Linked DNA regions of Homo sapiens: region 2 is linked to region 1. The links come from fine-mapping of genetic effects on gene expression. Tissue or cell type: ovary. Region 1 holds a variant in brackets; the other region holds the start of a gene. All regions are shown on one strand. Distances are between the middles of the regions.

Region 1 (8,107 bases):
CCCCTGAAAATAAATTGTTAAATGTTCAAATAGCATTTAAAACTTCTGTGGTAGAAATCAGATTTCTACCTGACTTCCTTAATTAAAATATATAGTGTATACTCCAATATACATCAGAAACTGGAATTTGTTAAGTATTCTGATTGTTTCTTTCTGTCTGGGATGCTTAAAGTGTTAATTAAATGATATGTAAAACATATGTGGACTATGGATTTTGTCTAAAACAATAATGTGATATAAAAATGTCTCAGATTTATTGTTAGACAAAATCAAAGGTACTTTTATGTAATCTGTTGCATACATCATAGCTGTAGAAAATCCTTAACTTCAGTTAGAGGTTAGTGAAAATAAAGATGTGACTTTTTTTCCCATTGTTCACATAAACCCTGGTCTAAAATTATTTTTATTACCCCAGGCACATTCAAGGAAGCCAGAATCATCAGCGTCTCAAGAGATTTAGTCTTTGAGGAAAGTGGAGCTTAGTCTTTTCTGTTTTTAGCTCTTAGTGCTTTTCAAACCTTTAAAATAAGTAAGTGGTTGACTGTTAAATGATGATTGTCAATATCTCTTGCATTAGGAACTTGGCTTATTGCCACGAATTTTATTTCAGATTACTAAAGAAATTGATATTTATGAAAGCCAATGTAGTCAGTGTATCTTAAAGTCAAACTACTAGAATATATCTGCTAATAGTAATAAGTGCTTTATTTATGTCTTGACTTTGAGCTGCTATAGCCATAAGTATTTTTTGTCATTAAAATGTTCCTTCGTCATTAAAAATATAATTCATATCACAATCCTGAATCATCCTTCTACTTTATGAAACGACTGCTTGGTCAAATTTGTGTGATTATTATTTTTTTAATTTACTTTTTATTGTGGCAAAATATATACAATACAGAAGTTACCATTTTAACCATGTTTAAGTGTACAACTCAGTGGCATTAATTACATTTACAGTGTTGTACACCCATTACCACTATCTGTTTCCAGAATTTCTCATCACCCCAAACAGAAACGCTGTACTCTTTAAGCAATAACATTCCATACCCTACTCCACCCAGCCCCTGGTAACCTCTAATCTGCTTTCCATCTCCATAAATTTGCCCTTTCTCAACATTTTATATAAATTGAGTCATATAATATTTATCTTTTTGTGTCTGGTTTGTTTTCCTTAGCATAATGTTTTCAAGGTTCATCCATGTTGTCACATGTATCAGAATTCCATTCATTTTTATAGCTGAATAATTTTCCATTGTATGTGTATATTACATTTTGTTGATTCCTTCATCTGTAGAAGTATACCTGGTAACCTTTTGGCTATTGTGAATTATTTTGTCATAAACTTTGTGGTAAAGTATCTGTTTGAGTCCCTGTTTTCAATTATTTTGGAAGTATAATTAGGAGTAGAATTGCTGATGGTGATTATGTTTAACTTTTTGAGCTATGTGATCATTCTTTACACTAGTTCATTCTATTTTTTATTATCTTCACATTAATATTTCATAAGTTTTTAAATTTTTTTGCTTATTTCCTTGGTTGACTTTTGTTGCTGATTTTAAAGAAATTATTTGTTTTGATCATTCATTTTTTTCTTTTCTTTTCAATTGTTTGTTTTTCAGACCTGAGTCAGAACTCCATCACAGGGGAACACAGCCAACTGTTAGGTATAGTATTACTGTGGGGATTGACTTTATCCAAAGTCACCCTTAACTCATTTATCCTAACAGACATTACTCCCTTCTCTGATTCTATTTTCTATCCCCTCCTTTTCTACTTCCCACCCAACAACTTTTTTCCTGCTGTTTCTATTCCCAACTTGCCAAGTTTTAGGAAACTACTTCTATAATTGATTACTAAGACTCAGTTAAATTAAAAAGTAATTTTGCATGGTTTATGGTTAAAAAAAATCTAAGAACTAGAATTTTTTAAAGATAATTTGGAAAAGAAGATATTATAATAGCTTTGTAATATCTGACTTTGCAGCTAATTTTCCCTTTTTATTACTTTTCTTGGCCTTTTGATCCCCTTTTTAATTATTGAAAGTACTTCATAAACAGTATGTCCTTAAGCAGTCCTTAGAATTTGGTGTTCCAGTTCCTTATCTATGAAACAAATTATGGAAATGAATTTACTTCCTCTGGGTACCACTTCTTTAAAGTAAGTGCATAATTTGACAAGAATTTCTCTTTTTTTTTTTGAGACAGTGTCTCGCTCTGTCACCAGGCTGGAGTGCAGTGGTGCGATCTCCACTCACTGCAAGCTCCGCCTCCCAGGTTCATGCCATTCTCCTGCCTCAGCCTCCCAAGTAGCTGGGACTACAGGCGCCCGCCACCACACCCAGCTAATTTTTGTATTTTTAGTACAGACAGGGTTTCACCATGTCGGCCAGGATGGTCTCCATCTCCTGACCTCGTGATCCGCCCACCTCTGCCTCCCAAAATGCTGGGATTACAGGTGTGAGCCACTGCACCCGGCCTTGACAGGAATTTCACAAGACCTCAGGACTGATAAATTTTCAAAGTGTAAAAAGAAACATACCCTGATGAGGCATTCAGCTCAAACAAAAGGCATATATAAAGAAAGTAAAAGTATCTCTTCTTCTTACCACCTCATTTCCACCTCTTAAAAGTACTTGCTGTTGACAGTTTCTTGGGAATTCTTCTAGAAATTTTTAATTATAAATTTTTGTATTATATATGACTATCTTTTCCTTTTTATATCAATGGTGTTATAGTAAATGGACTGTTCTATTATACAGACTGCTTCTTTTTACTTAACATTTTACCTTGGACATCTTAGTACATAAAGTTCTGCTTCATTCCTTTGTTTGTGATGGAAGAGTATTTCATTGTGCTCCTGCACTATAATTTTATTCAGCCAGTTTCCTACTCATGAGCATGTATTTCCAAGTGTGTTACTGTTGTAAGTTGTGTTGCAATGAATATCTTATACTTATATCCAGTATATAAGATAGATATATCAGTCTTAATGCCAGTATATTTGTAGGGTAAATTCCTAACAGTGGAATTCCTTACTCAAAAGATATGTACATGTTTAAAAAGATACATCAGCTTAAACTCTCACCAGTATGGAGTAATGCTTGACTCTCTATAATAAAAAAAAAAACAGGTATTATTAATCTTAAAATAGTTTCTTTACCTAATAGGTGAAAATGGCATCTCTAGTTTTTTATTTATACTTCCTTCAGTGTAAGTGAGGTTAAGTAATTTTTAGTATATTATTTGGTATTTAACACTTGTGTGTCTATGTATGCTTTGATTTGAGGCTTATTTTGATCCCTGCTGAGCTTTTAGCTGTTTAAATATGTGTAAAGCAGCTATGGAAAAATAAGCTATCAAAAAGTCCAAAGTAGGGAAAGTAAAAACTTCAGAGGATTAGTTGAAGAAACTGGGATACTCCTTTTTCGTTCTTTCTATATTAAAGACTTAGGATAGTCCTTGGGTTAATGAGAAGAGTTTATGAGACCATAGCCCTCATTCCTTTAGTGAGTTTATATGCTGAAACAGTACCTGACATCCTAGGCACTCAGTATATATTTGTTAAGTAAATGGTTTGACATAAATATACAAATCTGATCACCAAGGTCCTGACCGTGTGATGTTAGAGGTTTTTTGTTTTTTTGGTTTTTGGTTTTTTTGAGATGGAGTCTTGATCTGTCACCCAGGCTGGAGTGCGGTGGCACGATCTTGGCTCACTGCAACCTCCACCTCTCAGATTCAAGCAGTTCTCTGGCCTCAGCCTCCTGAGTAGCTGGGACTACAGG[T/C]GCACGCCACAGCGCCTGGCTCATTTTTGTATTTTTAGTAGAGTCAAGGTTTCGCCCTATTGGTCAGGCTGGTCTCGAACTACTGACCTCAGGTGACCCACCCACTGTGGCCTCTCAAAGTGCTGGGATTACAGGCATGAGCCACCACTCCCGGCCACTTTTTTATACTTTTATATTGGATAGTTTCTATACATTGCTCAAAATTAGTCTTCTGTATATAAAAATTTTATATTTGGATCAGGAACGATTAAACTTTCATTGAAAAATTTTGCCAGACCATGAAAAGAACATCTTTCCTCTAAACTATGAAAGTGTTTCTGTCCCTGATACATACATGACAGGCAGAGATGTTTGAGAATAGTTCATTATCAGGAACACATGTACAATGGAGGCAGCTTAGCTAGTGAAATGGACAGTCAAAAGTTGATACAGTTCTAGTATTACTAAGCTGGATTTTGTTCCCAGCTAATCACCTGCAGTAAAGGATACCTGGGGAACTGTAGGCAAAAATAAGTAACTTTGATTATGAAGGAAGAGTTATCTTAGTCATTATTAGCCAAAAAATTCTAATAGTATTTGCAAAGAGACTGCTTCAAACATTAATCTCATTTGGCAGCCTACAGTTGCATTCAATTTTTAGCCAACCTGAGGATTCATCCAGTCTTCTGGCCAGATTATCAGGTATGTCCATCCTGCCAGCCTGAGTTCTCTCTCCTAGATTCATGGAGTCAGATCATATTTTCCTTTTTTCTCATGCTCTGAAGAACTATCCTCTTCTGTCTTCTGTCTTAAGTATCTTTGTTTTAGCTGTAGCCTCAAAACCTTTAAAAGTCTGGTTTAATTAAAAGAAATTCATGAGTTTGCAAAAGACTGAAAGATTTTTTTTGTTGTATTTTCTAACCATCTGATAAGTTACTCAGAAAAGGCATTATAAGGTTGAATGAAAATCTTCCAACCAGGCGCCGTGGTTCACCACGCCTGTAATCCCAGCACTTTGGGAGGCCAAAGCAAGTGGATCGCAAGGTCAGGAGTTCGAGACCAGCCTAGCCAAGATGGTGAAACCCCATGTCTACTTAAAAAAAATTGGCCGGGCATGGTGGCGGGTGCCTGTAGTCCCAGCTACTTGGGAGGCTGAGGCAGGAGAATCGCTTGAACCAGGAGGTGGAGGTTGCAGTGAGCCAAGATCGCACCACTGCATTCTAGCCTGGGCGGCAGAGTGAGACTCTGTCTCAAAAAAAACAAAAACAAAAAAAGAAAAAGAAAAAAAAAGAAAATCTTCCCAGCTCTCCCTAAAAACCTTGTTTAGGATAATTTGGCCTGGTAGGTGAAAAACTGGTTCAATTGCCTTGCCTGCTTAATTGAATTTGTAATAACATCTTTCAGACCTTTGCTGTTGAATTGGATATATAAAAGCCCTTTCCAGTCCTTCTAAATGTTTTTACTGTCAACAGGGCACAGTTATTTTAATGTATCTACTGTTCCCACTGACTCATCGGGTCTCTTGCAAAACTCAGGGTCAGGCTGAGGAGATATACGGGAGGGTGAAACTGCTGTTGTAATAATCAAGCTGTACACCTGTGATTTATGAACTTTTCTGTGTGTGTGTGTGTGTGTGTGTGTGTAGCTTTGCACTTAAAAAAATTTTTAGAAAGCTAGCAAGCAAACAAGCCATGGGTCCTGGCATTATTAAAAGTTTTATCAGGCATCCAAGGAAAAATAATTCGAGTCTTCTGCAGTCAGTCTCTCATAAGGAATAGAAAACCAAGTAACTACTACCTCAGTTTTGAGGCTTTTGCAACCTTGATAACCAAAACTTAAGAATGGCAACATGAGATTAAAAAAAAAAAAAAGTATAGGCCAACCTTACTTAGGAACATATCTACAATCCTGAACGAAATATTTGCAATCTGAATCGGGCAACATATTTTTTTAAATTATCCCCTCATCAAGTTGAGTTTCTGCTAGAAATCCATGGTTGGTTTAATATTGAAAGTTAATTTATATAATTCACTATGTTAACAAATTAAAAGAAAAATATTGTATAATAATCTTAATAGAGGTTGAAAAAGCATTTGATTTGAAACATACCTGATATGGTTTGGCTGTGTCTCCCCCCACTCATCTTGACTTGTAATTCCCATAATCCTCACGTTTTGTGGGAGGTAACAATCATGGGGGCGGTTTCCTCTATGTTCTTATGATTGTGAGTGAGTCTCATGAGATCTGATGGTTTTATAAGCATCACGCATTTCCCCTCCTTGCACTCATTCTCTCTCCTGCTGCCCTGTGAAGAGGGGCCTTCCACCATGATTATAAGTTTCCTGAGGCTTCCCTAGCCATGCTGAACTTGGAGTCAATTAAACCTCTTTTCTCTCTCTCTTTTTTTTTTTTTTGTTTTTTGTTTTGTTTTGTTTTGTTTTTTGAGATGGAATCTTGCTCTGTCACCCAGGCTGGAGTACAGTGGCATGATCTCGGCTTACTGCAACCTCCATCTCCCAGGTTCAAGTGATTCTCCTTCCTCAGCCTCCCAAGTGGCTGGGATTACAGGGACCCACCATCACACCTGGCTAATTTTTGTATTTTCAGTGGAGACGGGGTTTCACCATGTTGTCCAGTCTAGTCTCAAACTCCAAGCCTCAAGTGATCCGCCTGTCTCGTCCTCCCAAAGTGCTGGGATTAGAGGTGTGAGCCATTGTGCTCAGCCAAACCTCTTTTCTTTATAAATTACCCAGTCTTGGGTATTTCTTCATAGCAGCATGAGGAAGGGCTAATACAGTAAAAACCCAGTATTTAAGTTTATGAGTTCATAATGATAATTTAAAAAATGAGCCAGGCACAATGGCACACGCCTGTAGTCCCAGCACTTTAGGAGGCTGAGGAGGGAGGTAGGAGGATTACTTGAGGCCAGGGGTTCAAGATCAGACTGGGCAACATTGCAAGAACCCATCTCTACAAAAAAGCAAAAAATAATTAGCCTGGCATGGTGGCACACACCTGTAGTCCTAGCTACTCTGGAGGCTACAGTAAGCTGTGATGGTGCCACTGTACTCCGCGACAGAGTGATACCCTGTCTCTAAAACAAAACAAAACCCACAACTAACTGGTCACCATTGGAGTATTTAGTGAACCAATTATTCTGAGAACTGGTCAGTAAAGGGAAAGAATTATTCGTCCTGTTTTTAACTGAACCACTTGGTAATCAAATAGTAGATTAAAGGAAATGTCTCTTTTTATAGAGGTATTCTAGCTAATAAATGAAGGAACAATAATAGAATGAGAATATTACCATTTGGTGACCTCTCATAAATTAATGGAGCTAGGCATTACTCATCAACAATTGCTAATATCTCAAAAGGAAAGACAACCAGATGACAATGACATGTACCTCCTGGCAGTTCATAATACCACTGTGAAGTAGTTTTCCTCCCTACCCTCCTAGAAGTACTGAATGTGATTAAGCTTTTAGATTCAACTACCAATTTATAGGAATTACAAAAAAAAAAAGAGCATGTTAAACAGCATCACATGGATGCCATGATCAAAACCCAGACCATCAGAAACTCTCCAGGACAAATGACATGGTTTCCTTAACACATCAATGGCAAAACAAAGTATAAAATCAAAAACATGTAGCATTTGGGATAACCTTTCAGATTCACATAGTCACATAGTACAAACCCAAACCTGTGCCAAGGGAAATTAGGTACACCTACTGCTCTCTTGCCTAACTCAGACTAGCAAAGGCCATTTGACAAGATCAGGAAGCTAAAGGAGTAACTTGAGATTTATCTAGGGCCCAAATTATAGTATAAGTGGTAATTGACAAATGCAACATTATAGAAGTAATAACATCACAACAGTAAAGTGTTTATATAAAGAGTAAGACCTTTGGTATACCTTTTTTCTGTTTACAAAAAAAAAATATGCCATGAAAAACAGAAATCTGAAATATTTAGTAGAATTATCCTATCAGTTTTCATTTGAATTATGCAGTGAAACACCAGTAAGTTTCCCAAAAATGTCAGCATTATTTAGATAGTAAAATGAGAAAAAAGAAACATAATAGTGTCTGGGCGCAGTGGCTCACACCTGTAATCCCAGCAGTTTGGGAGGCTGAGGTGGGTGGATCACCTGAGGTCAGGAGTTCAAGACCAGCCTGGCCAACATGGCAAAACCCCATGTCTACTAAAAATACAAAAAATTAGCCAGGCATGGTGGCAGGCGCCTATAATTCCAGCTACTCGGGAGGCTGAGGTAGGAGAATTGCTTGAACCCTGGAGGCGGAGGTCGCAGTCTGCTGAGATTGTGCCACTGCACTGC
Region 2 (8,107 bases), 70 kb before region 1:
ATTACAGGCACGAACCACCACATCCAGCTAATTTTTGTATTTTTAGGACATACGGGGTTTACGCCATGTTGGCCAGGCTGGTCTCAAAAACCTGACCTCAGGTAATCCACCCGCCTCGACCTCCTAAAGTGCTGGGATTACAGGCATGAGCCACCGCACCCGGCCCAAGCAGAGGCAGTTTATAATACATTCCAGCCTAGTTTTCAGGAAGGCATTTCTCTGCAACAGATAACTACAGATTATCTTTTCCCACTAAGGTCCTTCCCACCTTACCCTCCCATCCTCCATCCTCCACATCCCCTTCCCCTCATAAGCTCAAGCATGGCAAAATCCTAGAACAGGCTCCAGTTGCCTAAAAAAGACAGATGAACTTGGGCCTTCCCCCTTGAAACCTCTCTGTGCCAGTCCTAAGACACATACCCCTGATCCTCTCTCCCACCACAAAAACACATGCGGAAGTGTCCCCTGTTCAAGAGAATCAAGTTGCTAATTGCCATCCTTTCTCTATACTCAGCATGTGTCCTCAGAGACACCTTAATCTGTCCTTAAGGAAGTCCTCTTCCTTCCCCAGCCCCTAGTCTTAAAGGTACAATCTCCTTCCCTAGCCTCCCCAAGTGTGATACCTTTGACGGGGTGTAGCACCTCACATTCCTTTAGGTCAGCCCAGAGAGCTTGTCTCAAAGGATATGAGCAGGTACCAGAAATCCTCCTCACCACCTGCAGACTTACCTCCATCTGAAGCCATCCTCTCAGGTTTGGGCACTAACTGTGGCTGTCTGGAAGCCTCCAGAATGAGGCAGTCAGGTCCAGGACCCAGAGTAACCTGGCTCCAGTAGGTGCACAGGGATCCAAGGAAGGGAAGGTAAAGATCAGATCACACAGAACTAGAATACGGAACTCAAGGCATTCTGCTGTGGGGGAGGGGAGAGGGAAAAGTGGGGTGAGGGTGGGGACAGATATTCCATGAAGGGTTCTAGTAAGTATGAAAAAACCAGGAATTCCCTTCAAACTACAGTTTGGCAACACAATTGATGTTTGCCTCTTTAGGGCTATTTGTAAACTTTTTCTCAGATTCCCAACACATTACAGTTTTACCGTTTGGTTCACTACACTTCGATTCTTCACCAACATATCTCATTTTGTGTCCTTCCATCCCAGCCAGTTCTGTAACTGACTTCCTATTAACAGCAGGTTGACTGTAGACCCCTGACTTAATTCAATGATGGCTATATTTTCTGAACTAAATTCAGAGTACATTGGTCTATACACGTAAGGATCAAGGGAACTAAAGTTTAAAATTAGAATTGTCAGATGATCCAAGGTGCTCGATTGCTGTGTGCACATCATTTCCTTGGAAAGCTGTCCAATCTACTAACATAGGCTCTGTACTCCACAGACGCCTTACCCTTTGCTGAAAAGCCTCACTAAATAAAAAAGCTGCCATGCAGTTTAAAATTTCAAGAGTAGAAAGTCCTTCTTTTTGTTAAATTATTTTGGTTTAAACTTTAAAAATAAAATTTATCTGCTAAGGTTCCTGGCGACTATTTCAGGCCAGTAACTCCCAGAGCATCCTCTACAGCCACAGCTTCATCCAAACGTGGATTTCCCCCAAAAGGCCTTCCCTGGGGTTCATGGCATCTTTCTTGCTTCCTCTGAGATATCTTTTCTCTTTTCTAAAGACCTGAAGGCTAAAATCATCATTTTCCTTTCTAACAAAATTAACTACTTAGATTTAAATTTTTTTTTTTAAACAGAGTCTCGCTCTGTCACCCAGGCTGTAGTGCAGTGGCGTGATCTCTGCTCACTGCAAGCTCCGCCTTCCGGGTTCACGCCATTGTCCTGCCTCACCCTCCTGAGTAGCTGGGACTACAGGCACCCACCACCATGCCCGGCTAATTTTTTGTATTTTTAGTAGAGACGGGGTTTCACTGTGTTAGCCAGGATAGTCTCGATCTCCTGACCTCATGATCCGCCCGCCTCAGCCTCCCAAAGTGCTGGGATTACTAGGCGTGAGCCACCGTGCCCGGCCTTTAAAAAATTTTTAACAGGTAATAAATACATTAGCAAGGTTCAAAAATCAAACTGCGTAATAAAATACATAGCAATAAGTCTGCCTCCCAACCCTTACCCCTTTCTCCTGCAACTAAGTTCTCTATCCCAGAGGAAACCAGTATCATCTGTTTCTTGTGAATACTTGCAGAGATTTTTTATGCAACTACAAGTAAATACAAACCATATTCTTTTTTTTTTTTTTTTTTTTTTGAGACAGGATCTCGCTCTGTCGCCCAGGCTGGAGTGCAGTGGCGTGATCTTGGCTCACTGCAACCTCCGCCTCCTGGGTTCAAGTGATTCTCCTGCCTCAGCCTCCCGAGTAGCTGGGACTACAGGTGCCCGCCACCACGCCCCGCTAATTTTTGTATTTTTGGGGGTTTCACCATATTGGCCAGGCTGGTCTCGAACTCCTGACCTTGTGATCCACCCGTCTCAGCCTCCCAAAGTGCTGGGATTACAGGCGTGAGCCACCGCGCCCAGCCACAAACCATATTTTTTTTTCTTTAAGACGGACCCAGGCTGGAGTGCAGTGGTGCTATCTCAGCTCGCTGCAACCTCTGCCTCCCCGGCTCAAATGATTCTCCTGCCTCAGCCTCTGAAGTAGCTGGGACTACAGGCGCCCACCACCACGCCCGGCTAATTTTTCTGTATTTTTAGTAGAGACGGGGTTTCGCCAGATTGGCCAGGCTGGTCTCGAACCCTTGACCTGTGATCTGCCTGCCTCAGCCTCCCAGTGTTGGGATTACAGGCGTGAGCCACCGCGCCCCGCCAAACCATATTCTTAAAAAAAAAAAAAAAAAAGTGCAGGTTTTTCTGGTTACACAGTTAATATATATTCCAATGCTTTTGTCATTGTAAATAATGGCGTAACGATGATCTTTGTAATGATATTTTGGTTCTCATTTTCATTTCTTTAAACGAGAGTCTTATAAGGAGAACTTCTATATTCTTTTAAAAATTGTAAAAACTCCTAGAAGGTGCACTTTATTACGTTATTATTAGCTACTCACCACCATAAGAAAGAGCGCTGAATTTGCGGTAGGGACCTAACTTTAAATCTTGGTTCGACCGCTGAAACATGCTTCACCAGTTTCATAAAATAACTTTACGCTCTTTCGCTTTACGGAATATTGATACTCAACATGCATTCTTTACCGCCAACGCTTTGAAATGGAGCAGGGGAACTGGATGTAAAAGAGGGGAGGGAAGAAAACCTCTTCTTTCTTCCCTAGGGTAAAGGGGCTCTGAATCCTGGAGCCCTTGTTTCTTCAGGCATTGAAAACTCACTGCTCCTGAAATGGGTGTGTATCTTGAGACAAAGACAGGCTTCTATACGTCAATATTCTATCCACATCCATCCCTACCCCCCTCTAACGCCGTGTACCTAGCACACAGTAGGGACACTCCACGTGTTTTAGCCTGCAAAGTTGCAAGTAGGGCCCCAAGCCAAGCCCTGCTCTCGTGCGCCCCCTTCTGGCTAGCTGAAAACAAGGCAAAAATTGACTACATTTTCCGGAGTGCCAGGAGAGAGAGACTTCCGGTTATGCAGGAAGGAAATTGACGAACACGTGACGCGGTCGGGCGGACCACTGCAGACTGAGCGGTGGACCGAATTGGGACCGCTGGCTTATAAGCGATCATGTTTCTCCAGTATTACCTCAACGAGCAGGGAGATCGAGTCTATACGCTGAAGGTGAGGAGAGAAAACAGGGTGTAAATAGGCATGGCGAGAAATGTAGATGGGAGGAGTGGGTGAGGTCATACGTGGAGTTACCTAGCTGGGTGCGGGGAACCAGAAAGTCCAGAACCGAGGTGGGGAAGAACCGGGACCGCGCGACTCATTTTTTAATTAAAAGAAAAAATTCTGGCGGGGCGCAGTGGCTCCCGCCTGTAATCCTAGCACTTTGGGAGGCCGAGGCGGGTGGATTGCCTTAGCTCAGGAGTTCGCGACCATTCTGGGCAACACTGTGAAACTCCGTTTCTACTAAAATACAAAAAATTAGCCGGGCATGGCGGTGTGCGCCTGTTATCCCAGCTACTCGGGAGGCTGAGACAGGAGAATCGCTTAAACCCGGGAGGCAGAGGTTGCAGTGAGCCGGGATAGCGCCATTGCACTCACTTTTCCTTTTTTTTTTTTTTTTTTTTTTTAAAGACAGGGACTCGCTTTGTTGCCTAGGCTGTAGTGCGGTGGTGCGGTCTCGGCTCACTGCAACCTCCGCCTCCTGGGCTCAAACAATCCTTCTGCCTCAGCCTCCCGAGTAGTTGGGACTACAGGCGTGCGCCACCATACCCGGCTAATTTTTGGTTTTGGGGTTTTTTGTTTGGTTGGTTGGTTTTGTTTGTTTGTTTGTTGTAGAGACGAGGTTTCGCCATATTGCCCAGGCTGGTCTCAAACCATCCTCCCGCCTCGACCTCCCAAAGTGCCAGGATTACAGGCGTGAGCCACCGCGCTCGGCCTTTTTAAATTTTATATTTCTCTATTTATTTGTACAACTTTTTGAGTTGACCATTGCATCTTCTATTTTCATGTTTGCCCTTTTTCGCGCTGGCCCCACCCCATTTCATCACTCCTGTACTGACATACATTCTGTGTTCCTGGAGCAGAAATTTGACCCGATGGGACAACAGACCTGCTCAGCCCATCCTGCTCGGTTCTCCCCAGATGACAAATACTCTCGACACCGAATCACCATCAAGAAACGCTTCAAGGTGCTCATGACCCAGCAACCGCGCCCTGTCCTCTGAGGGTCCCTTAAACTGATGTCTTTTCTGCCACCTGTTACCCCTCGGAGACTCCGTAACCAAACTCTTCGGACTGTGAGCCCTGATGCCTTTTTGCCAGCCATACTCTTTGGCATCCAGTCTCTCGTGGCGATTGATTATGCTTGTGTGAGGCAATCATGGTGGCATCACCCATAAAGGGAACACATTTGACTTTTTTTTCTCATATTTTAAATTACTACAAGATTATTAAAGATAAAATGATTTGAAAAACTCTTATTTTGTGAGTTGTTGGAGGAAAGGATTGGCAGTATTTTTTTAAAGGGAGGGAGATGATAAAGGAGAGTACCCCAGAGAGTTGCAACAATACCACTTGGAAGAAAAACTTCAGTCCTGCTGTTGCAAGAGTGGTCATGTGCTGTTCATGATAGGAGGGTATTGGGGAAGAAAGATTAAGACTTTCACAGCTGTCAGCATTCACTGAAAAATACCTCTGTTGTCACTTAACGTAATTTCTTGTCCCTTGAAATAAGATTTTGATTAAAAATGGAAGAGTACTTGTAAAAGTAATAGGCATATTACAGACAGAGGTCAGTGAATTGAAAGTCAGAAGACCAGTATTTGCTTTTTGTATAACTTTGAGAAAGTTACTTAACCTGTTTAGTCTGATTTTTCTCCTGATTAACTTATCTTTGAACTCAAATTGATTTAGTGGTGGGCCTTTCTTTTTTTTTCTTTTGAGACAGAGTCTAGATCTGTTGTCCAGGCTGGAGTGCAGGGGTGCAGCCTTGGCTGACTACAACCTCCGTCTCCCAGGTTCAAGCAATTCTCCTGCCTCAGCTTCCCAAGTAACTGGGATTACAGGTGCACGCCACCACACCTGGCTAATTTTTGTATTTCTTTTAGTAGTGACAGGGTTTCGCCATGTCGGCCAAGCTGGTCTCAAACTCCTCACCTCAAGTGATCCACCCACCTCAGCCTCCCAAAGTGCTGGGATTACAGGCATGAGTCACCACACCTGGCCTGGGTCTTTCTTTTTTTTTGAGATGGAGTTTTGCTCTTGTACCCCAGGCTGGAGTGCAGTGGCGCCATCTTGGTTCACTGCAACCTCCGCCTCCTGGGTTCAAGCTATTCTCCTGCCTCAGCCTCCCGAGTAGCTAGGACTACAGGCGCACACCACCATGCCTGGCTAATTTTTGTATTTTTAGTAGAAACAAGGTTTCACCTTGTTGGTCAGGCTGATCTCAAACTCCTGACCTCAAGTAATCCGCCCGCCTCAGCCTCCCAAAGTGCTGGGATTACGGGCATGAGCCACCTTGGCCGGCCTAGTGCTGCAGATTTTAAAATTGCTTTGTGGAGTCTGTATTTTAATTCTGCAATCTTTATTTTCTATGATAAAAATTCTAGATTCCAGAAGCAGATATAACTTAAATTAGCACAGATGTGATTTATGAAGACATACCCTGGAAATACTTTTTTTTTTTTTTTGAGTCAGGTCTCACTCCTGTGGTCCAGGCAGGAGTGCAGTGATGTGATCACAACTCATTGCAGCCTCTACCTCCCTGTCTCAAGCGGTCCACCCCATTTTTAAATTTTTTATAGAAACGAGGTCTCACTATGTTGCCCAAGCTGGTGTTGCACTCCGGGCTCAAGCTGTCCTCCTGCCTTGGCCTCCCAAAGTGTTGGGATTACGGGCGTGAGCCACAGTGCCCGGCCAGACTTTGCTTTTCTTGGATCTTGCTATTTGACCATCCCAGCAGAAAAGTTCAGGATAGTTGTGGGTTGCTGAAAAGAAAAAAAAAAGTCTCTCAACTGGAGTCATAATTAATAGAAGACAGATGATTTTGAAATACATTACTGAAACATATAGGAATGGTGAAATGAGATACTTGTTTCCTGTCAAGGAATTTTATTTCTTAGCCTGTTCACTTACTTGCAGGGTTCTTAACATTGGATCTGAAGGATTTTAAAGAGTTAACTTAGAGAAATTGTGAAATGGGATACTTGTTTCCTGTCAAGCAATTTTATTTCTTAGCTTGTTCACTTACAGGATTGGATATAACATTGGATCTGAAAGATTTTTAAAAGTTATCTTATCCAATTAAGGGGATAATGATTGGAGACATGTTTCTTAAGCACCAAAGTCAGTAAGTGAATTTTGCTACCAGTTTTTTAATGTTGGCTGCAGTTCTGCCTTTATCTTACAAAAAAGAAAAAAAAAAAAGAATTAGCATTGCTCCATGCTACCACCTGTGTAGACTTAAAAGCTTTAACCTGAAAATATTCCTAATGAATATAGAGGAGAGAAAGCAAACTGGCATGAATATAAAAAGGACTTTTTCCATAAGAGATCCCCTGAGGAATGAGGCTTCATTTTGCACCAGAGGCTGTGTCTCCCTGAGAAAATAAAGAGATCCCTGGGGTATTAACGTCTGAGACATACATTTATAGAGCTTGGTTAGTGCTCAGAAACAAGAAAAGTCTTAACAGGGATAGTATATTGGAATTAGGTGGTACATATAAGTAAATGCAGATACACTGGTAGGAAATTGGGTTTCATAAAAATTCTGTGTTTCTTTATAAAGGAAAAGTCTGAAGTTTGAATGAACGGCAGGCCTGCCTGAGGAAAAAATTGATCCTGCTGAGGATGGATGAAAGCTGTGGGCCTGAATCAAGAAACCCAGACTTTATAAAGAGTCAAACTTTAGGAGGTTTACACTTTACATTAGGATTTCTCATTTTGTTACCAGGATCTTTTTAACCTTTTTGATCCTTTAATCCTTGAAAGGATTTGGACTTTGTGTGTCATTTGATAAAAGAGAACTTCCGGGAATACAGTTCCCATTGCTAGGAGTGCTGCTTAAACATAACCACTTGTGAGGAGCCAAGACCCCAGGCAAAACCGGGGGCCAGTTTCTGGGCCCAGGTGATTGTTAAATTTAGAGGTCTTGATCACAGCTATAGGAAATAGCTTTTCAAACAAAACATTGGTGAGTCAGAATTTATCGAACACCACCATTTATACATTAAATAAACACTAAGAAAAAATATTCTAGCGACAAATGTAGTGGTGAAAACATGGAATGGATTTGAGAAAATACATCAACGTCTTCTCCAGGTATAAAAAAACGTATTATTTAGTGGAACTTTCAGTCTGACTAGAAAGTGGACATAGCATTTATTAAAAGGACAAGAACAACAACAAAAAATTAAAGTAGGACAAATGTGTTTAAGGTACTTTATAGTTTTATTTTTATTTATTTATTTCTTTGAGACGGAGTTTTGCTCTTGTCCCCCCAGGCTGGAATGCAATGGTGCGTTCTCGGCTCACTGC

The links. PIP is the estimated chance that this variant, and not a neighbour inherited with it, causes the effect.
Region 2: NOP10 starts here. The variant in region 1 is fine-mapped to the expression of NOP10 in ovary (GTEx, PIP 0.98).

Annotation. Positions count from the first base shown.
Region 1 is chr15:34,268,905-34,277,011 of GRCh38, reverse strand. It overlaps SLC12A6 (solute carrier family 12 member 6), which reads left to right. Exons shown (of 26, transcript NM_001365088.1): 3 at 1,623-1,667. Among named protein-coding and RNA genes, the nearest start is that of EMC4, 48 kb to the right of the region's middle. The variant T/C (reference allele first, on the strand shown) is at 3,788.
Region 2 is chr15:34,338,658-34,346,764 of GRCh38, reverse strand. NOP10 (NOP10 ribonucleoprotein) reads left to right here and starts at 3,629. Exons shown (of 2, transcript NM_018648.4): 1 at 3,629-3,745; 2 at 4,657-5,046. The coding sequence starts at 3,692. The coding sequence ends at 4,797. It overlaps NUTM1 (NUT midline carcinoma family member 1), which reads right to left and starts at 3,450. Exons shown (of 8, transcript NM_001284292.2): 1 at 3,063-3,450; 2 at 730-823. The coding sequence starts at 3,068. RefSeq lists silencers at 3,597-3,696, 3,777-3,886.